Linked DNA regions of Homo sapiens: region 2 is linked to region 1. Evidence: fine-mapped expression QTL. A gene starts in region 1. The other region holds a variant in brackets. All regions are shown on one strand. Distances are between the middles of the regions. Region 1 holds the start of PRODH (proline dehydrogenase 1). Region 2 holds the start of DGCR5 (DiGeorge syndrome critical region gene 5).

Evidence for each region.
Region 2: its variant is fine-mapped to the expression of PRODH in sun-exposed skin (GTEx, PIP above 0.99). The same link has a PIP of 0.9 or more in tibial nerve and unexposed skin.

Annotation. Positions count from the first base shown.
Region 1 is chr22:18,930,811-18,940,821 of GRCh38, forward strand. PRODH (proline dehydrogenase 1) reads right to left here and starts at 5,483. Exons shown (of 14, transcript NM_016335.6): 1 at 5,205-5,483; 2 at 180-388. The coding sequence starts at 5,477. LOC122455341 (a long non-coding RNA gene) reads left to right here and starts at 5,613. Exons shown (of 4, transcript NR_173080.2): 1 at 5,613-5,838; 2 at 6,542-6,657; 3 at 8,863-8,939. RefSeq lists a cis regulatory region at 5,465-5,699, a promoter at 5,713-8,927, enhancers at 7,863-8,927, 7,886-8,180, 8,042-8,549 and a silencer at 7,886-8,180.
Region 2 is chr22:18,966,823-18,978,844 of GRCh38, forward strand. DGCR5 (DiGeorge syndrome critical region gene 5) reads left to right here and starts at 3,646. Exons shown (of 6, transcript NR_110533.2): 1 at 3,646-3,836. RefSeq lists an enhancer at 2,727-3,558. The variant G/A (reference allele first, on the strand shown) is at 6,067.

The sequences.
Region 1 (10,011 bases):
ATGCAAGAACTCCAGGCAGAGCCCAGGAGGGTCATCGGTAGTTGGGCTGACCAAGCTCTCCTAGCCTTGGCCTCTGCCCAGCTGAGGCTGAAGCCCAGCAGCTGGATACATCCCACCTGCTCCCACTGGGTGCTCCAGGGTCATGATCAGAAAGCCCGCAGACACCGGGCAGGCCTTACTCCATCTCCTTGTGCTCTGCCTCCTCGGGGCTCAGGTCCTCCTCCACTCCATAGTCCAGGATGGCGCTGACACCGAAGGCCCTGTAGTGCCGAAGCAGGGGCTGGATGGACTCCTGGTCCTCCCCGGCTACAAAATGCCCATAGAAGGTCATCTTCATGAGCTTGTTGAATAGCCTCTGTCCTAGAAGTTTCCTGGAAACATACAGCAGCTGAAAGGCAAAGGGAAGCCGCTGTCCTGGGCTGCCTGAACTCTCCTTTCCCAGCAAGGCACCGCTGCTCATCCCCGACCACACTTCACCCCAGCCATGGGGCCTCGATATGGTCTCTTGGCGACTGGGCTTTCAGGGTCAGTTTCATGGTGAAGACCAGCTAAAGCCGCTTGCTTCTCCACCCTGTCCATCACTCCAGTTCCCATCCAGGGCAGAGAGACCACAGGAGGTGCTGCCTGCTTGGCCTGAGGACACTGTTCCCACCTGGACTCTGCCCCTTCAGGGCCCCACCCATGAGTCACTCCAGCAGCACACAGTGGGTGCCTGACCACTGCTTGGTGGATAAAAAGGAGAATGGCCAGCCTCCCTGGGGATGACAGCCGGCATTTTGAGACCATCCTCTGTATCCACACCTTGGTAGTTCTGCTGCGGAAGAGGAGGATCTAACTTGACTTTCTAGTACTTGAGTGCCCAGATTTTTCAATGTTTTGTTCCCTCTTATCCCAAGTCCCTTAAACAGTGTGACTGGCATGAGGCCAGCCCCCGAATGGATGCTAAATAACAAACGTGTGAAACTCAGGCTGAGTCTGCGCCCAGCTGGAGGGAGGCATGCCCTGGCAACAAGGACAATGAGCTAGATGACAGTCCACAGGGGCCTGTGAGATGACTCCCACCCCAGGACCCATGCGCTCTGCAGGGTCATCTGGGGCTGACCAGCCACTCTGACAGATGCTGCCCGGGAACTGTCTGTCTCCTCCAATCATATTTCACCACGTCGCTCATTCAGATGTCCCAAGCTGCCATGCACCAAGCACCTTTTATAGACTGGAAACAACCAAAGGAAACCGACCAGGATCTCACATCCTGGTGGTAAAGGAACCCCAAAGGGGAAGGAGGGACTCTGCCTATGACTCAGGACAGGGGGATGGGGCAGTGCCTGCAGGGTAGGGCAGGGGTGTTTACTAACCCAGATCCAGGAGTGGGGCTTGCCAAGGCGAGGAGATGGCATGGACAACTGTGGGAGCTCCAGCACGGGGGACAGCCAGGGCAGAAAGGACAGGGACAACGAGAGGCTACTTGGAGAGGAGGGCCGAGTGTGATGCTCAGAAGCACACCTCCGCGTTGTGTCTGCTGCCCCTGCCGACTCAGCCCCAACACAGGAAGAGCCTGGGGTTTCTCAAACCCAATGGATACTAGAACTCCTTTTATGTGGGGAGCATCTCTTGAGACCGTAGTTTCAGGAACAACTTCTAGTCTAAGCAAAACCATTAGCGAGTCAAACACTTACACCCAAGCCAGCCCTGAGCACCCACACGCCTGCCCACAGGCAGACATAGCCCCACAGCCTTACCCTGAACATTGGTGCCCCATGGAGACGCCTCCTGACCATCACCCCTGGGCACGCCATGGGGCAGCCCCAAGGACCAGGGTTTCCCAGGCACTCACCCCTGCCTTCCTGCAGCCTCCAAGCAGAATCTGACTTTAAGGCATTTTGTTCTTTTATCAAGAGGATTAGAAACTGGAAAATGAACAGGCTGACATGTTCTCCGTCTCCCACTGAGCCTGAGCCAGGCCTCATTCCTGCTGGCAGCACCCAGGGATAGTTGGGAGAACAGGATGGGTCTGAAACATATCAAAGATCACCCAAGTGGCAGGCGGGGCAGAACTGGGGACCTGAACACCATCACTGGGCTTATCCACATCCGCTCTGAGAGAACCATCAGAAAACAACAGGAGGGAGGGTGGGCAACTGTCGACTGCCGCACGGGGCCACGCAGTCTCCCTCTACCTAACTGCTCGCCTCCGCACGGCCAGCACTAAATGAAGGGGCGGGAGCCCAGGCTGCACTGACTCCAGGGATGCTTATTCACAAAGATGGGGGGCTGGGGGACTGGGCCCGGGCTGAGGGTGGAAGCTCCCTGCACAGGGCTGCAGAAGCACACAGGCAGGGCTGGCAAGTTTTTTATTTATTTATTTTTAGAGGCAGGGTCTCACTCCTGGGCTCAAGCGACACTCCTATCTCGGCCTCCAGAGTAGTTGGGACTACAGGCATGCACCACCACACTCAGCTAACTTTTATTTTTTCTTTTTTTTGAGGCAGAGTTTTGCTCTTGTTGCCCAGGCTGGAGTGCAGTAGCACAATCTCGGCTCACTGCAACCTCCACCTCCCAGGTTCAAGCGATTCTCCCGCCTCAGCCTCCCAAGTAGCAGAGATTACAGGCGCACACCACCATGCCCAGCTAATTTTTATATTTTTAGTAGAGATGGGGTTTCTCCATGTTGGCCAGGCTGGTCTCAAACTCCTGACTTCAGGTGATCCACCCGCCTCGGCCACCCAAAGTGCTGGGATGACAGGCATGAGCCACCGCACCTGGCCCCAGCTAACTTTTAAAAATATTTTGTAGAGACAGGGTTTCACGATGTTGCTCAGGCTGGTCTTGAACTCCTAGCCTTAAATGATCCTCCTGCCTTGACCTCCTTAAGTGCTAGAATTACAGGCATGAGCCACCATGCCTAGGCATGAGCCTAGGGCTTGTAATTTTAAAGCTGACTCCACAGCAAAGCAACCACTTTAACACCATCCTGGTGTCACTGATGTCCCCGCATGGCACTACCTGAGACCAGGGCAGCCCCACATCTTCTTCAGGTGAGGAGATCCTTCGAGGATTTAGAAACCTGCACCAGTAACACATACACTTGTACCCCCTGTGAAAGACTCAACCAAATGTGTGCAGAGTAACACTGGTAGAGCCGGTTCTCTCCCCTCCCCCCACTCAGGGAACCACTGTCACCACGGGTCCTGTCCCTTCTGTGAGGGCGCACACCCAACCTCAGTGCTGTTGTCATGGAAATCCTGGGACTTTCCTAAACCCTCCTCAATAAGTCTGGCTTTCAGGCAAGGGCGGGCCCCACTGCTGTCCCCATCCAAGGCAGCAGCTCAAAGATCAGCTACTACAACCTGACACGCCTGTGGCAGATGTGGCCTCACTGCCCGGGTGCCTCACAGACCTGTGCTGGCTCAGCAGAAGGAATCTCCCCACAGCCCAGAGGGTGAGGGAAGGAACTCCCCTCTGGCCCGCTCACAGGACCAGGTTCTAGTGAGCAGCTCACAAGCCCAGGACCTGGCCTCTGCCTTCTTCCAGTGCTGAGGCTGCCGACACCCATGGGACCACTAGCAAGACAACAGTACAGACCCCACTGAGGGACTTCCCAGGGCACAGGTGGGACCCTAGGGGAGCCTGGGAGAGGTCACCTCTGGATGCCCTGCCTCTTCCAGGTACTCACAGCACCATCCCTGAGCCCTGGCACTTGCCTCAAGAAGGCACCCAAGGGACAGCGGAGCCAACAGTTTCCTCCCACAGTCACGGAACAGCACCTGGCATTCCCCGCAGCAGACTGGGCACCAAACCCCACACCCAGCTCTGCTGGCTTCTCTGTGCAACAACTTGTCTTGAATCTAGACAAGAAACCTTAGGGCTGTGCCTACAGAAACCTGACCTGGTGCCTTCCTAGCCCCCTCCCCATCCCAGCCATGCTTAGGGCTGTGCCTACAGAAACCTGACCTGGTGCCTTCCTAGTCCCCACTCCATCCCGGCCACAAGGTGGGCATGGCTTCTGCACGACTGGCCCCAGCTGCCACCTAGCATGCCCGTCCTTGCCCTGGGCAGGGACCTGTGGCTGGCCACTCCCTCCCCTGGCATTTCTGCCCTGCTGCCTCCTCCTCCTATTGCAGCACCACCAGCACTGGCTCCTCTTTTGGGATGCCCCTTAGATGTGGGCACTCCCCAAAGCCTCCACATCGCCGTCCCTCACCTTGCCAGTTCCTCTACCTGGGATGTCCCTTCTCGCCCTCCTGTCTCCTTGGCCGGGGCTCTCTATGACCAAAACTTGACCTTAAGACATCCTTGTGTGCACACACAGCAATGCCCTCCCAGAGCCCTCCATCTGTCCAGTTCAGCTCCTTCTTCCTCCACCATCCTCCGCACTCCCGCCACCACGGGTCCTAGGCTGACCTTGGCGCTCCCCATGGGATTCGGGCCAACAGCATCTGACTCTGAGTTCGTGGATCCCTGCCCTCACCTCGCACCCGCCGAGGCCTCACCTAAGCTCAACTGTGGCTCGGTGCTTCTCATCTGACACCGTCCCCCGCCTTCCCCCGCCTCCTGTTGAGGCCAGGGGTGCAGCCCCCGACCTCTGTACAGTCTCACCTGAGAAATCAACACCACCAGATACCCTGGCGCCAAAAAGCGGAACCTTGCAAACTCTTCCCAGGGTCACCTGGAGATAACCGTCATCTCTAGTACCCCTAGGCTGATGCGGCTAAAACAGTGTTCTGCTTGTTGCCCCCCACCACCGCCACCAAAAGCCCTGACACTTTTTAAAGCTACCATGGGTGAGTTCAAAGCTGGGCGTTTGAGGGGCTTCCCATTTTTCCCCAACAGTGTTCTCAGAGTGGCCGTGTCTGGGAAGCTGCTGGGTCCCGGGGTTTGAATTCCGGGGTTCCAGGCTATGAGCCCTACACCAGGATTCTCTTGTCTCAACATGAAGAATACTCCATTTTAAATTCCAAGTGATAACTCTGTATTCCCACAAGTGGTATATATCGTAAATATGAAAACGACCATTGTTTTTAGTTGGTAGACATCGACAAATAGGAAAATTTGCGAGGTCCGAGAGGGACTGCAGGAAACGCCTCCCTTCCTGGCTTCCCTTGCTCCAGGAGATGCTTGGGAGGCACCCGTTTCAGGCCAGGAAGCTCCGTAAAGGCTCCCGGGACCGGCAGAAGCCCCCGCGCCCCCGCCTGCACCCCGCGCACCTGCTCGTGGCGCGCCAGCAGCGCGGGCCAGGCGCACAAGCGCAGCACCAGCAGGCTCCGCGCCAGCTCCCAGGTTCGCCGGCTGCGGTACGCCTCCTGCGCGTTGCCGAAGTCCACGGCGGGCACCGGCGGCCGCACTGCCGTGGCCGACCCACCTCCTGGCACGGCCGCTGGGCCCGCTGCGGGCTGCTCGCGGGAGGCCGGCGCCGTGGACAGCGGGACGAAGCGGGGAATGCAGGGGCGCAGCGCGGGCAGGGCGCGCCTCAGAGCCATGGCGGGACGGCGGTACCCGCCCGGGCCGCTTAAGTGTGCGCTGTTGGTCCCGCCCCGCCCCGCCCCGCCCCGCCCCGCCCCGCTCGGTCCCAGAGGCCTCACCCTATATTCCTGACAAATGCCAGACAAGGGCTTAGACTTCACAAGCACCCTGGCACTTCAGCTGCATGGTGGGGACCCTCTGCCGGCAGGGCTGAGGCCAAGGCCCACTGGCTTCTCAAAGCCTCTGCTCCTGCTCTCCGTGAAGACAGCAACAGAGTGAGACCCTGTCTCAAAACAAAAATTATGTATTTTCAGATAGCTTGAAGGAGAATATTGAGTGTTCGTAATGCAAAGAAATAATAAATGTTTGAGATGATAGGTATGCTAATTACCCTTATCTGATCACTATACACGTACAGAAACATCACTACGTACCCCACAAATATGTACAATTATTATGTGTCAACTAAAAAATAAAAATAGCCGGGTGTGGTGGCTCACGCCTGTAATCTCAGCACTTTGGGAGGCCGAGGCAGGAGGATCTTTTGAGCCCAGGAGTGCCAGAGCAGTCTGGGCAACATAGTAAGACCTCGTCTCTACAAAAAATAGAAAATTAACCAGGCATAGTGTTGCATGTCTGTAATCCCAGCTACTCAGGAGGCTGAGGTGAGGGGATTGCTTGAGCCCAGGAGGTTGAAGCTGCAGTGAGCTGATTGTGCCACTGAACTCCAGCCTGGGCAATGGAGGGAGACCCTGTCTCAAAAATAAAAGTGAATTTTTTTTTTTTGAGATGGAGTCTTGCTCTGTCTCCCAGGCTGGAGTGCAGTGGCATGATCTCAGCTCACTGCAACCTCTGCCTCCCGGGTTCACGCCATTCTCCCACCTCAGCCTCCAGAGTAGCTGGGACTACAGGCGCCTGCCAAGCCTGGCTAATTTTTTATGTTTTTAGTAGAGACGGGGTTTCACCGTGTTAGCCAGGATGGTCTTGATCTCCTGACCTTGTGATCCGCCCGCCTCCGCCTCCCAGAGTGCTGGGATTACAGGCGTGAGCCACCACGCCCGGTGAATTTTTTTTTTTAAAGAAAGATTCCGGACACAAACGGCCACAAGTTGTATGGTTCGTTTTATATGAAGAGTTCAGAATAGACAAATCGATAGAGACAGAAGTCACACGAAGACAAGCCCATAGTGGAGCCTGGTGAGTATGGCACTGGCAGTGGTGCCTGGAGGTGGAGGACGGGAGGAGTGGGAGGGGCTGCCAAGGCCCACGGAGTTTCTTTGGGGTCCGGAAATACTCTGGGGCTAGAGAGTGGTGATGTTTGCTCAACCTTGTGTATAGACTAAAAAACCATTCAATATCTCAATAAAGCTGTTATATTTTTTTAAAAAAGCAAAGTTCTAGCATTTGCTTCAAGGAAGCCTGTGGCCCTGCACAGAGGCAAAGGTGGGCAGGGGCTGCCAGGGGCAGGGCTGCAGAGAGGGCAGGGGGAGAAGCGAGGGGTGCAGGGATCACAGAGATCACCACTCACGTCCAGACCATAGCAGAGCAGGCCTAGCGCTGGGTGCCCAGGCCCACGGGAGAGCCCACCTGTGAGGGCACCTGTGGGAACAAGGCTGGCCTGAAAGTCACTGGCTCCATGTGACAATCAATGAAACAACCGAGTTTCACAGGAGCTCTGTAAATCCTAGGAAGCAGGTCTTAGGCTCAGCTGGGGACCCTTGGCAGGTGGCTACCCTGAGCCAGCTGATGGCTTTTTTTTTTTTTTTTTTTAAGAGACAGGGTCTCTCTCTGTTGCCCAAGCTGGAGTGCAGCCATGTGATCACAGCTCACTGTGGCCTTGAACTCCTGGTGTCTCATGTGTCCCTGTGAAGGGACCACCAACCAGCTTTGTATGAGCAACAAGGCTGTTTATTTCACCTGGGTGCAGGCAGGCTGAGTCCAAAAAAGGAGTCAGCAAAGGGTGGTGGGATTATCATTAGTTCTTACAGGTTTTGGGATAGGCAGTGGAGTTAAGAGCAATGTTCTGGGGGCAGGGGTGGATCTCACAAAGTACCTTCTCAAGGGTGGGGAGAATTACCAAGAACCTTCTTAAGGGTGGGGGAGATTATGAAGTACATTGATCAGTTAGGGTGGGGCAGAAACAAATCACAATGGTGGAATGTCATCAGTTAAGGCTATTTTCACTTCTTCTGTGGATCTTCAGTTGCTTCAGCCCATCTGGATGTATCCGTGCAGGTCACAAGGGATATGATGGCTTAGCTTGGGCTCAGAGGCCTGACACCTGGGCTCAAGTGATCCCCCTGCCTCAACCTCCCAAGTAGCTGGGACTACAGGCTGGACTGCACCTAGCTAATTTTTAAAAAATATTTTTTTGTGGAGACAGGGTCTGGCTGTGTTACCCAGTGTGGGGAAAAGCAAGAGAGATCAGATTGTTACTGTGTCTGTGTAGAAAGAAGTAGACATAGGAGACTCCATTTTGTTATGTGCTAAGAAAAATTCTTCTGCCTTGAGATTCTGTTAATCTATAACCTTACCCCCAACCCCGTGCTCTCTGAAACGTGTGCTGTGTCAACTCAGAGTTAAATGGATTAAGGGCGGTGCAGGATGTGCTTTGTTAAGCAGATGCTTGAAGGCAGCCTGCTCCTTAAGAGTCATCACCACTCCCTAATCTCAAGTACCCAGGGACACAAAAACTGCGGAAGGCCGCAGGGACCTCTGCCTAGGAAAGCCAGGTATTGTCCAAGGTTTCTCCCCATGTGATAGTCTGAAATATGGCCTCGTGGGAAGGGAAAGACCTGACCGTCCCCCAGCCCGACACCCGTAAAGGGTCTGTGCTGAGGAGAATTAGTAAAAGAGGAAGGAATGCCTCTTGCAGTTGAGACAAGAGGAAGGCATCTGTCTCCTGCCTGTCCCTGGGCAATGGAATGTCTCGGTATAAAACCCGATTGTATGCTCCATCTACTGAGATAGGGAAAAACCGCCTTAGGGCTGGAGGTGGGACCTGCGGGCAGCAATACTGCTTTGTAAAGCATTGAGATGTTTATGTGTATGCATATCTAAAAGCACAGCACTTAATCCTTTACATTGTCTATGATGCAAAGACCTTTGTTCACGTGTTTGTCTGCTGACCCTCTCCCCACAATTGTCTTGTGACCCTGACACATCCCCCTCTTCGAGAAACACCCACAAATGATGAATAAATACTAAGGGAACTCAGAGGCTGGCGGGATCCTCCATATGCTGAACGCTGGTTCCCCGGTTCCCCTTATTTCTTTCTCTATACTTTGTCTCTGTGTCTTTTTCTTTTCCAAATCTCTCGTCCCACCTTACGAGAAACACCCACAGGTGTGTAGGGGCAACCCACCCCTACATCTGGTGCCCAACATGGAGGCTTTTCTCTAGGGTGAAGGTACGCTCGAGCGTGGTCATTGAGGACAAGTCGACGAGAGATCCCGAGTACGTCTACAGTCAGCCTTACGGTAAGCTTGTGCGCTCGGAAGAAGCTAGGGTGATAATGGGGCAAACTAAAAGTAAAATTAAAAGTAAATATGCCTCTTATCTCAGCTTTATTAAAATTCTTTTAAAAAGAGGGGGAGTTAAAGTATCTACAAAAAATCTAATCAAGCTATTTCAAATAATAGAACAATTTTGCCCATGGTTTCCAGAACAAGGAACTTTAGATCTAAAAGATTGGAAAAGAATTGGTAAGGAACTAAAACAAGCAGGTAGGAAGGGTAATATCATTCCACTTACAGTATGGAATGATTGGGCCATTATTAAAGCAGCTTTAGAACCATTTCAAACAGAAGAAGATAGCGTTTCAGTTTCTGATGCCCCTGGAAGCTGTTTAATAGATTGTAATGAAAAGACAAGGAAAAAATCCCAGAAAGAAACGGAAAGTTTACATTGCGAATATGTAGCAGAGCCGGTAATGGCTCAGTCAACGCAAAATGTTGACTATAATCAATTACAGGAGGTGATATATCCTGAAACGTTAAAATTAGAAGGAAAAGGTCCAGAATTAGTGGGGCCATCAGAGTCTAAACCACGAGGGACAAGTCCTCTTCCAGCAGGTCAGGTGCCCGTAACATTACAACCTCAAAAGCAGGTTAAAGAAAATAAGACCCAACCGCCAGTAGCCTATCAATACTGGCCTCCGGCTGAACTTCAGTATCGGCCACCCCCAGAAAGTCAGTATGGATATCCAGGAATGCCCCCAGCACCACAGGGCAGGGCGCCATACCCTCAGCCGCCCACTAGGAGACTTAATCCTACGGCACCACCTAGTAGACAGGGTAGTGAATTACATGAAATTATTGATAAATCAAGAAAGGAAGGAGATACTGAGGCATGGCAATTCCCAGTAACGTTAGAACCGATGCCACCTGGAGAAGGAGCCCAAGAGGGAGAGCCTCCCACAGTTGAGGCCAGATACAAGTCTTTTTCGATAAAAATGCTAAAAGATATGAAAGAGGGAGTAAAACAGTATGGACCCAACTCCCCTTATATGAGGACATTATTAGATTCCATTGCTTATGGACATAGACTCAT
Region 2 (12,022 bases), 37 kb after region 1:
CTACACTGCAGGACTGAATGGGATGACTCACTCAGCAGGCCTGGCACAGAGTCCTCTCGGGCCTTGGGCATGCAGCCACCCTCTGTGGTGAGAGCAGATGGCAGGCTGACGCCCCCCAGCTCCCTGGCACCGGGACCACATCCCTAGCCGCCCACTCAGAGTGCAGGGAAGGGTTGGTCACATTGACACGCTTGGGCAGCAGGCATGTGCTTGCCGCATGACCTTCTAGCTTCCTTCCTGGTCTCTCCTTGCATTGGCCTGGAGTGGCCCAGAATGTGTGGAGCAAAGACCCAATTTCCTTGCTGCCCATCCCTCCCCAGGAGACACCGAGGGCCTGGATGTCCGTGAGAACCGCACAGGCATGCCAAGGAAAGCCATGGCACGCCTATCTCTCCAGGCGGGAGATGAGCCTCCCGAAGCCCTGGGAAGAAGGGACCTTCCAAGGAGGCTGAACCGTGTCCCTGTCAGCCCAAGACGGGCCACTGCGAAAGGTCCCCTCATCTCAAGCTGGCTTCTATGGGCAGGCATGGAGTTTTGAGTGAAAACCCTGCATGATCCTCTCAGGGGACAGGAGGGGTGAACAAAGGAGGGACAGTGACCAGCTGACCAGGCCCTGAGGCATTAGCGTCTGCCTCGTCCACATGCTGTGCAAGCTCAGCGAGGCCAAGGGGCTGGGCCGAGGTCACACAGCTGGGCAGGGCCCTCATGACCGGCATGCTGGTCGTGGAGGCCGAGCCCCAGGTTGGGGGTGGGGGTGGGAGGTGAGGCAGCCCCTGGCCTCACTGGAGGGGGGTGGTGGGCTGGGGAAGCTGGCAAAGGATGTGCCCTACATGGTGGGTGTGAGGTGGGGAACGATTCGGGCAGATGCCCGTGTGGCCCTGCTGACCCAGTCCAGGCAGGGTGTGACAGGTCTGCCCAGCCCTGAGGTCACAGCTGTCTGCAGTCTCCAGCTCACTCCTGATCCCCAGGGCCACGTGTCCAGAAAGCCTGGGAGCTTGCATCAGCTGGGCACAGATGGCCTGTCCTCCCAGCACCCCTGCTGGGGCTTCCTAGGAACTGACTGGTGTAGACTCCGGGCAGCAGACGGCCAGGCTCTGCCCACAGGGTCCCTGGCTCCTCCCATGAGGTGACCCGATAGAACTGGCTGTGCCCCTTGACCAGGGGCTCCAGCCCTTGTCAAGCCCTCCCTGCTAGCCCCTCACCAGCCGTCAGCTGCCCTCCCTCCCTTGCCCGTTGGGCCCTGGGGGGGTGATGGCTCCGCGGTCGCCTGCCCAGAGAGTACACCACTCCCCATGCTGCCCCCCGACCTGGCTACACCCTGAAAAATGTGGCTTACCAAACCCTCCCACATGCACAGCCTGAGAAGCGGGCTGTGCCTTGCTGGTAGCAGACCGACCGGCTGCCTAGCCCTGCTCAACTCTGCCTCTGCACCCCCATAACTCCCTATCAGCGCTGGCCCACACCTAATCGTTCCAGCTAGCACCCAGGAGTGGGCTCAGCTTCCAGTGGGGAGGGCGCTGGCCAAGGTGCTGACCGAGGTGGCGGACACAGGAAACCAGCCGGTCCCCCAGCGCTCCCTCTGTGGGCCTTGGGCCTGCTCCCACTGCACAGACAGGTGGGGAGGTGGAGGCCCAGGTCCCAGCCCAGAGCAGCTGGGAACAGCCGGACTTGATGGCTGGAGAGGGCTGTGGTGCCAGAAGCCTCCAGGTTAGCCCTGGCTCCCCATTTCCCCCCATGCCCATCCCATGCCCCAGAATGGTCACTTTGGCTGCTGCAGGAGGGGTGGGAGGGGCTTTAAACCTATGAGATAGGGTGTGGGGTCACAATCTTCAATTGTAGTGGGCCGCTCTGGGTCACTGGTAATTGAAGAGACGCCTGCATAGTAAGCACGCAAGTGTCCTCTCAAGCCCTCTCTGCAAGCACAGAGCAGCCCGAGACTGGAGCCTGGTCCACCCCAGCGCTGTCCTCAGACTGATGGTCAGTGCCTCATGACTCATCTAGGGTCTGATACATCCCTGTGGTGAGAGCTCAGTTCCTAGTCTAGGGGCTGCTGCGTGCAGGGACCCTGGAGGAAGAATGCTTGTTTAGGGGTCAGGCCTCAGCCTCCCACTGGCTCTGTCAGCTTCGCCTGAGGTTCCCCATCTGTGCAATGGGTGATGACATCTTGGTGTGGCTCTGGGAGGACCTGTTGAGCCACCTCAGGGGCTGAGCTGGTGGCACTCGGCAGCCAGCACCCTCTGGGGAGGTGGCAGTGTGTGCACAGCCCACCCCTTCAGGAGGCCAGGGGACAGAGTGGCTGGGGGTGTCTGGGCCCCACCTCACCTTCTGTGTGGCTGGGAATGGCATGCACTCCACAATGCCCTCATAAGCCTAGGCTGGGACAAGGGTGATAGGGATAAAGCAGGCCAAGGTGATGAGGGCCACAGAGCGGCAGCCAGAGGCATGTGGGCAGTGCAGCCTCCACACCAGGCAGAGGGCCCGGCCAGCATGGCTCCACCCTGGGAAGCTGCCTGCCACTGGGATCAGATGGGAGCACCAGGGCTCTGGGAGGTCCTCACTTCCTCTGGACAAGGCAGGCAGGTCACCAGCCCTGTGCCCTGCTCATCTCCCTCAGGGCCACCTCCATGGCCAGGGGCAGGCAGAGAGCACAGGGCTGCCCAGTCACCAGGTCTCTCTGCTTCATATCAGTGGACCTGGGCTCTGAGGGGAGCCATCAAGACCTCAGGCTGGCCCACTCCGTCCTTGAGTCAGGGTCCTACAGACTGACACCAGGTTGGCCTGCAAGACCCTGGTCCTGTCATGCAGGGTGGGCCTGGGGAGGACCCAGCCCAGCTGAGCTGACTCCCAGCACTCCTCCAGGTGCAGGGACAGCCTGGCAGTTGTCTGAAGACCCCGGGATGGGCTTAGGAGCTCATCATCATCGGATGCCCCCCGAGCAGAAGACGGAGAAGGAACACCCCCACCCTGTGTGGTGTGTGTAGGGGTGTCACTGGGTTCTCTGGCTCCATGACGCCCCCCCGGCCCCGCTGGGGGCTGGCTTAGTAGAGTGGGGGATGATACTAAGCAGGCGGCCTCGGAGAGCGTCTTCTGGGTTTGGAGGCCACATTCCGCAGGAAGGAAGAGGTGGGGGACCCCTGCAGGGTTATGGGTAACATCAGGCCTGGGTCCCCTCCCTGGGGTGGTGCAGAGAGGGCCACAAAGGCCCAAGAGGGCCCCCAGAACGCTCTTAAGCCTTGAGCCTGTTTCTTACTGAAAAATGGGGGCGATCGTGCTCCAGCAAGGGGCTTCTGTGCAGGGGGCGGGGGGGGGCGGGGGGTTCATGGGTTTCGTGAGGCCAGGAAGCGAGTGGGTCGCGCAGAGGCCATCCCCAGGCCTCAATGGCCCCAGCCGCCATCCCCTCCGCCGCCTGCAGGGCCGCCGCCTCTTCAGGAATGCGCGGCTTTGTCTAGGGCCGGGTGGGCTGAGCACCTCCTGCTGCCCGGCCTACGCTCCCCGGCCAGCCGCGCCGCTCACGCCCCAACTTGGGCCCGCGCCCCCCAGCCCCCGCCCAGGCCCGCGCCCCCCAGCCCCCGCCCAGGCAGGCGCCTGCGCCCAGGTGAGGGCCCCGCCCGCCGCCGCCTCCCGCGCCCTGCGCGCCCGCGGCCCGAGCCCCGCCCGAGCCGGGCGGAGCGGAGCGCGCGGAGCCTAGACCCGCTGCCGGGCCGGGGCTGGGCCGGAGCGGCGGCGCCTGGATGCCGGCCCGGGGCTGGGCCGGAGACTGGCGCCCGCCCCGAAGCGACTTTCGGTCCCCGACCCGCTCCGCCTGACCCCTATGATGAAGAGGGCGTCCACTGGAGGTGAGTGTCCACGCGGCGCCAGAGCCCAGCAGGCGGCGGGGCGCAGAGCGGGGTGGTTCGCCCCTCCTCGGAGCCGCAGGGCCCGTCCAGGGCTTCCAAGGCTGGGGAAGCGTAGCCGGGCGGCCGGGAGGGCCACCGCAGTGCCGCGCCAGGCTGGGGCCAAGGGCGCCCCGGCCCCGGGAGGGCGGAGCCGGAGGCAGCAGGAAAAGTTGCCGCTTCCCGGGTAAGTTGACGGCGATGGCGGGGCCGGGGGTGGCGGCCCGGGGGTCCCCGAGGCTGGGCCAGGTCCGGGGTGGGGGCCGCGGGCTGGAAGGACGGGGTCCGGCCTCGGCGCCGCGGCCACGAAGGGGTTAATGAGCGGGTTTTTTTGCAGAAACGCGGGTACCGAGAGTAGGTGGAGGTATCGGGCCGCCTCCGCCCCCGCCTCGCGGACTGGGCTCAGAACCTCCCGTTTTTCTGAGGTCAGGCCTCAGGGGGATCAATGGGGGCGTTGGCGGCAGTAGAGGGCGTGGGGGACAAGGTTGTCCCAACGCTGCCTCCAGGGCGGGCGGTGAGAGGAGGCAGCAATGCCCAGACATCCGCAGCCCGAGGGACATTGAGAGGCTTGGCTGGGGGAATCAGGGGTGGTGGGGCAATCAGCATCCCCTCCCTGGCAGCCTTCGTGAGACTCCCCCGCCCCACTGGGTGTGAGGTCCCGCAGTGGGGGGCAAGGGAGGGTGGGCTCCATGTGAGTTGGGCATGCCCTGCCTGGAGGGTGCTCCCCAGGTGCCCACCCAGGCTGCCCTGCTGATGTCCATGGTGTCGCAGGCTGCACACACGTTTCCTTGCACGTGCACATGTCTACACGGACTGCACACTTGCACACCTCTGGTGCACATGCGTGCCAGCGCCACCCCAGTGTACACATGCACGAACACTGGGTGCACACACGGACTCTGAGGGTGCATATCTGTGTCCTCGCCCCCGCTTGCACGCCCACGGCCACACATGCATGTACGCGACATGCCTGCTGTGGTCTCCACGGGTGGCACATGCTGGGGCCCCTTTCACAATACCCACTCCCGCACCCACATGCTCGTCTGTTGAGTGGGGAGGCCAGGCCCACAGACAGGGGCAAGACATCCTGGGCCCCACCTCTGCCTGCCTGCCTCCGTGTCCTGGGGGTCCCCGCCTCGGGCGTGTGTGCGTGTGTGTAACTTGGTATGCATCTGCACGTGTGTCTGTGCGCGTGATCATGTGTGCCTGCGAGCACATAGGCATATGTCTCTTTGCCTCCAGGGTGTGGGTGCCCCTTGTGTGCCTAGACAGGCTGTGGCCTAATCTGGAGCAGAGGCCCTGGAATGTGTGTTGGGGGCTCATTGAATGCCCCCAGCCCAGGGTGTGAGGGGCAGGGTCTCCCAGCCACTCCGCACCCACCAGGGCTGAGGCAGTGATAGATGATGGTGGGCTGGAACCTGTCTGGTCAGGGAAGACCCATTTCAGGCCATGAGGTCAACACTGTGACCAACAGGCCAGACCCTGGGCACCCTTGGTGGCCGCTGCAGCTTGGCTGACTGGAGCACGTGACCCAGCGTGACTGCAGAGGCCCCGCCTCCAGTACCTCAGTTTCTCCATGGTGAGGACCTTCTTGGTGAGGGGTTCCGTGGTGGGCTCCCCTACCTCCGGTGTTGTGTAGGGTGCTGAGCAGATGGATGCCATGCTGCATGATGGGCAAGGGTGGCCCACTAGCACTGTGGCAAGGGCCCTGGGCTGGGGCTTCAATTGGCAGGCCACACCTCCTGCTCCCCTGGCCACCACCAGAGGCTCATCTATAGAGTGGGGACCAGCAGGTTATCCTTGTAGGTTGTGTGAGGGTGAAACATACTAGCAGAGGGGCAGCTGAAGCAGTGGGGCTGGCCAGTCTCTTTTTCTAAGCCTCAGTCTTCCCATCTATAAAGGGGGTACTGTTCCCTGTTCTTCTCTACTGAGGTGAGGAGGAAGTGAGCTCCCATGCCGGGGGTGGGAATGGGTGGCCATCAGCACCTAGACCCCACCTGGCAGAGGGGCACGTGCAGGGCCTGCCGTGGCAGAACCGTGACCTGGATTTGGGTCCTGGCTCAGCCACCTGCTGGCAGTGTGACCTTGGGTGTGACAGGTCACCTCTCTGCCTCAGTCTTCCTCACCTGCACCATGGGCCAGTGGTCAGGGATTATCGGGGCACTTCCAGGCTGAGGCTGGGCGGAATTGGCCC[G/A]GCTTTCCCTGTGGAGTTCCGACTCTGGTGCTTCTGCCTCAGAATGCCCAGAACACCTCCCCACACCCCAACTCAGCAGAGTCCTCCTGGGACCTTTGCATGGCCAGCTGGCCCCTCACCCCATCCATTTGCAGAAGGGACAATAAAAGCCCCTAGTCAGGCAACTCAGGCCACAGGTGAGTGGAGAGGGGACAGGGCAGGGATGCTGCCCAGCTTGGGAGACCCTCCCATAGTACCTTCACTCCCTCCCTGCCCTCCCCCTGTTCCTCACCTGGGGGTCTGTGGAACCCCTGAGCCTCAGTTTCCCTGTGCCAGGGTCCTTCCACTGGGACTGGCAGAAACGTAGGTTTGCATGGAGTGAGAAGCAGGGGAGAGGTTGAGGGAGGGCCTGGCCCAGCAGGTCTCTGAAAGCCAGAGGGCTTGTGGAGGGTCTATGGAGGACACCCCCACAGGGGCTGGGGCCCTGGAAGGTGGGGGAAGGTCCTGTTGTCCTGGGAGGCTGGGGACTGGCCCACAGCCTGTGGAGGGGCTGGGGTTTGTTTGCTGTTGCTGTGAGTGACAGGCAGGCTGTGAGGGCCAGGGCATGTGGGACCGTGCCCTCCGCCTCCCTCTGCCCAAGGACAGTGCAGCCTTGTAGCACTGCCCTCTCCTCGTCCCTGCCCCAGCCTTGAATTCATGCTTTGTGGCACGGACGGCCCTGTGCAGCCGGTGCAACACCAGGAGGGTCCAGCTGGTGAGGACAGGACGGGTGGGAGGCAGAGGAGCCCTCCTGCTGTCCTGGGCCTGTGGCCCGGAACCTCTCACCGGGAGCCTTGGTCTGTGCACCTGGGAAAGGGGTCAAGAACAGGAAGCATACGGGGAGTTTCAGGATGACCTGGAAATGAACAAATGCATGTGTGAGCCAGGCGCCCTGCCCGGCCCTGGCACAGGGTTAGTGAGGGCTCCCGACGCTTGGCTACTGTCTGATCAATGAGGTTCATGCCGTCCCGCCCCCATTCTGGCAAGCCTGACCTCTGATCCCCAGGCTGGCCTGCCTGACCCTCTGCAGCCACCCAGGGCCTGGGCTTTGGGGTCTGCAGGAGCCGGCCTGGCTGCCTGCTGCCTCTGCAGCTGTGCAGATGCCCTCTCGGGGCCCTCTCTGCACCCCTCAGTGTCCCTGCTCTGCAGCCTGGCTGCACCCAGGCCAAGGTCACAGGCACCCTCCTCGAAGCCAGATCCCAGATGCTGCATTTGCCCCAACTGTCCGTTCACTTTCTCATTTGTTCATTCATTTGCTTGTTCGTTCCTAGCCTGTCAGATTCTCTTCTGAGCCAGGCAAATCAAGGGGTGCAATCCTTGGCATCGTGCATCTCTAGGATTAAATGCTTTAAAGGATAGGAGGTAACAGAGTGGCCCCGGGGAAGCCCGATCGGAGTGGCGGGCATGCTACCCCACCCTGCAAATCTCCCTGCACTGTCCCTGGGGCCCAGCTGGGTTCCCCACACCAGTTGTTCTGTGCTGCCGTTTCTTCTTTTATCGCTGTATTTTAAACACTTTGCACATCGGGAACTATTCTTGTGCATCGTGGGTTTTCTGGTGTGTGTGGAATCCCTTCCTGAGAATGCACCATCATTTATTTATCCAAACCTGCACCGGCCTCCTGCACTGCCTGCAGCCGTGGAGCTGGGCACCGGGAGATGCAGCTCTGCACACCCACCCCACCATGTCCTCAGCTGGCACCCACCAGGTCTAGGGGCTGGTCACGTGCCTCTCCCCTGATGCTTGAGCTGATTTCAGGGGACTCGGCAGCAGGGCCAGATCCCGCCCCTCCTAGCCAGCTGAGGCCTTTGACAACCGTGGGCTGGCCGGGTGGGTGATGGTGAGTGAGTAGAGTCTGGGCATCCATTTGTGCAGTGGGTGCCTTGGGGCCGCCTCTCCTCTCCCTCTTTCACACAGCCTCTGGTCTTGCCCGCTATGGCCTGCGGGGCCTCTTCTGCGGGGCAGCAGGGCAGCGGGGCATGGGGTAATGCTGACACTGTTCTGCAGCTGTGTCCTGTCCAATGGAGGCAACCCACGGCAGCCAGACCAGGAGGTGGAGAAGAAAGGCAGGGCTGTTGGCACACCTCGAGAGTGGCCTTAGGAGAGGCTGAGTGGGCACAGGCCAGGGTCCCCATGTAGTTCTACACAGGCCTGGCAGGCGGTAAGCCCCATTCAGGGCCCTGGCACATGGAGCCGGGCTGATCTGGGAGTGAAGTGTCAGGTGCTGACCCAGCCTCACTCAGAGCAGCCTGCCCTGGGCCCCCGGGTGCCTCTTGGCTCTCCAGTCGGCACCCTGGCATTCTTAGCTGGCTGTCACGGGTCACGGTCCATGGAGTTGAAATTCTTTGGAATGTTGGGGGTATCACATAAGGGCTTTGTGGTCAAATGTGGGACCTGCTGGAATAAATGGTGCTGATGGTGCTCCTTTCCCGCAGGGCATCTTGGGCTCTGTTTTGGAGAGGGGTGGGCAGCACCTTCTCTGAGAGGCACCCCTATGCGATGTACCTCAGGGCCTGGTGTGCCCAGGAACCTGTTTTGGGAAACAGTGGTTGAAGTGCCTCGGAGGACCAGAGGAGACCTGTGGGCCTCCAGCAAGTGCCCCAGGATGGGTAGACCCTGCCACACAAACCCCGCACCCACGGGGCGCCCAGTGGGTGGAGGGACCACTGCTTCCCCCAGCAGTTTGAGGCGATGTGCAAATTTAACCTTTGGATTTATGACTCAATTTCTTTGTAGCAAATGTCACGGGAAATGTCAGGCCAAGGCTGAGGCTGGGTGAGGGGCCCGTCGAGGAAGCGGGTAGGGCTAGGCAGGCTAGAGTACCGAGGAGGGGCTCAGGCCAGGGTGGGCTTCAGGCCCCTCACCTCCTCCTGGGAGCCTTCCTGGATTGTCCCTTGCTTGCCTGGATCCCCGGCACTGTGTCCTCAATTTGTCCCAGCTATCACAACCTTGTTGAGATGTTGCCTTTATTTGCCTTCTACCAGGGCCCAGATGAGGCCAGCTCGGGGACATGCCAGAAGTCCCCCATTCCCCAAGGCTGGGCAGCCATGGGATCAGCTTGTGCAGTGCCGGCTTGCTGTATGACCTTGGGCAGCTCCACCCTTCCTGGTCACCGTAGGCCTCTCTGCAGTCCACAGCTGGTGGCCAGAGGTGGTGTTCCCAGCTCAGTGCCTTCAAGAGTGGGAAAACGCCTAGAGTCCTCAGTATGTGGGGTGTGGGGCTCTGGAGGAAGTGGGTGGGGGCTGAATGCAGGGCTGGGGTTGCGGAGGGCTGGCCCTTGGTGGTCCCAGGGGCTAGAGCAGCCCCTGCACACAGCAGGTGCTCAGTAAAGACCAAAAGGCAGTGCGTGGATGTGGAAGGTGGAGGTGGATTCCAGCTGGGAGTCCACAGTCCCCAGTTACATGTCCCCCCTCCACCGCCACATGCCAGATGTCATTCCAAGGCCCCACGCTGGCCCGTCACCAGCTCTGCCCTGCCTCCCAGGCCCGGGCGGGTCAGGGAATGGTGACTGCCTCCTCCCTGCCGTGTGCCAGGCCTGTGCACTGGAGCAGGGGTTCAGGCTCCCTAGTGCTCTGCATCTCTCCTGCACACACAGCTCCCCACACTGCACACCTTAGGCCTCCAGATCCAGCCTGTCTGCTAGTGTCACATCCTCCGTACCCAATGTCCAAGCCCAGAGTCTCAGCCTCTTCCCTCGACCCATCCCCAAAAGCAAAATCAGTGTCAAACCTGCACCCTGTCTCCCGGTCCATCCCCTTTACTCCTCACTGAGGACCAGCCTCAGACCTGGCCTCTGTCCCCAGCCTGTGGCCACAGCTGGCCCCTGCAACCTCCCTGCCTCCTGGGTTCAAGCGATTCTCCTGCCTCAGCCTCCTGAGTAGCTGGGATTACAGGTGCCCACCACCAAGCTAATTTTTTTGTATTTTTAGTAGAGATGGGGTTTCACCATGTTGGCCAGGCTGGTCTTGAACTCTTGACCCCAAGTGATCCACCCACCTCAACCTCCCAGAGTGCTGGGATTACAAGCGTGAGCCACCGTGCCTGGCCTCTGAAGGACACTTTCAAGAGAATACACAAACAACAAATCAGGAGAAACTATTTGCAAATCATATATCTGGTAAAAGACTTATATCCTAAATATACAAATAATAACTCTCAAAACTCAATAATAAGAAAAAAACCTATTCACAAATTGGGCAAAATAATTGAACAGATGGTTCACCAAAGAAGACATTTTGTCAGCAAACAGGCACCTGAATAGATGCTCCACATCTTTAGTCATTATGGAAATGCAAAATAGAACCTCAGTGAGATAATATTTCACACCCACTAGGATGGCTGTAATTTAAAACAGAAAATATCAAGTGTTAGGAAGGATGTGGAGGAACTGGAACTCTCATACGCTGTTGGTGGGAATATAACATGATGCAACCACTTTGGAAAATAGTTTGGTAGTTTCTTAAAGAGTTAAATATGAACCTACCATATGACAGTCATTCCCCTCCTAGGTATTTACCCAAGATAAGTGGAAGCATTTGTCCAGACAAAGATTTGTATACAAAGGTTTATAGCAGCTTTATTCGTATAAGCAAAAACTGGAAATGACCCAGAAGTCTGTCCACATGTGAATGGATAAACAGGCTATGTGATATCAATACAGTGGAATTGACTTTTGACACATGCAACGTGGATGTGTATCATGGATGAATATCAAAGGATTTTAGACATGGATAAATATCAGAATGATTATGCTGAGTGAAAGAAGTCAGACAAAAAGGAGTACATACTGTATGTTTCTGTTTAGATTAAATTCCACAAGATGTAAACTAATCTACAGTGACAATATAGAAGAATGGTTGCCCGGGGCAGGGAAGGGCACGGGGAACCTTTTGGGGGTAACCACCTCAACTGTGGTCAGAGGTTCACAGGTACAAACATGTCAAAAGGTACCAAATTATACGTTTTAAATGGGTGCAATTTATGTCAATTACACCTCAACAGAGAAAAATACAATGCTTATTTTATGCAAAGGGTTATTTTGTAAAACTCTTTTGAGGAGGACCGTCCTGGTCAGCGGCCCTCACCATCGAGACTCTCCCTGCACATGGGTGCTGTGGTGACTCGGCCCCTGGGCTCACCCTCTGGTGCTGTGTGCACCTCAAGAGCAGGATGGAAAGGTCCCCTCCCCACAGCCTGGCTGTCAGACCCCCGGCACAGAGGTGCACCGTGCAGCCTCCCGTCATTTCCCATTTGCCTGCCCAAGCTCTCAGTGTCTGAGCTCTGTCCTCTTTCTGGAAGACAGCCAGGTTTAGTGTTGGGAGCAGGAGACCAGCATGGGCTAGCCCAGTCCCACCACCTGAACAGAGGGGCTGTGATCCTCCAAGCTACCCAGGGAAGGTGCCACCTGGGTGCACAGCTGGTCCCAATGGTCAGGCCTCCCCTTGACAGAGGGGCAGGGCCGTGTCATGGTCAGGGCCTGTGCTCTAAAGCCAGACTGAGGGTCAAAACCCAGCTGCCCCATTTACAAGCTTCACGGTCTCAGGAGTGTCACTCTGCACATCAGTTTCCTCATCTGTAAAACCGATCAGTGACATCTGCCTGGTTACCTGCTGGGGCAAGTGGGTGAGTTGAGTCCGATGAAGCACTTAGAACGGTGCCTGGTATGTGGCAGTGTACAGAGCATGGGGCAATCACTGCAGCCGACCTAGCTGGTGGCTCCAGTGGGCCTTAGTGCCCCAGGCATCTGAGGAGCCCACTCTTCAGCACTGCCCCCGAGTGGCTGCAGCACACACTCCCCCAGGACTCATTCAGCCCTCCCAAGGAGTGGGAAGCCTCCGGAACCTGGTGCTGTCCGAGGCACGACACGCAGGAAGCAGGGCAGGTGTCCTCCCTGGCCCCTCACCCTTCCTAGCCAGGCTGCAGCTGATCCGAGGTGGTT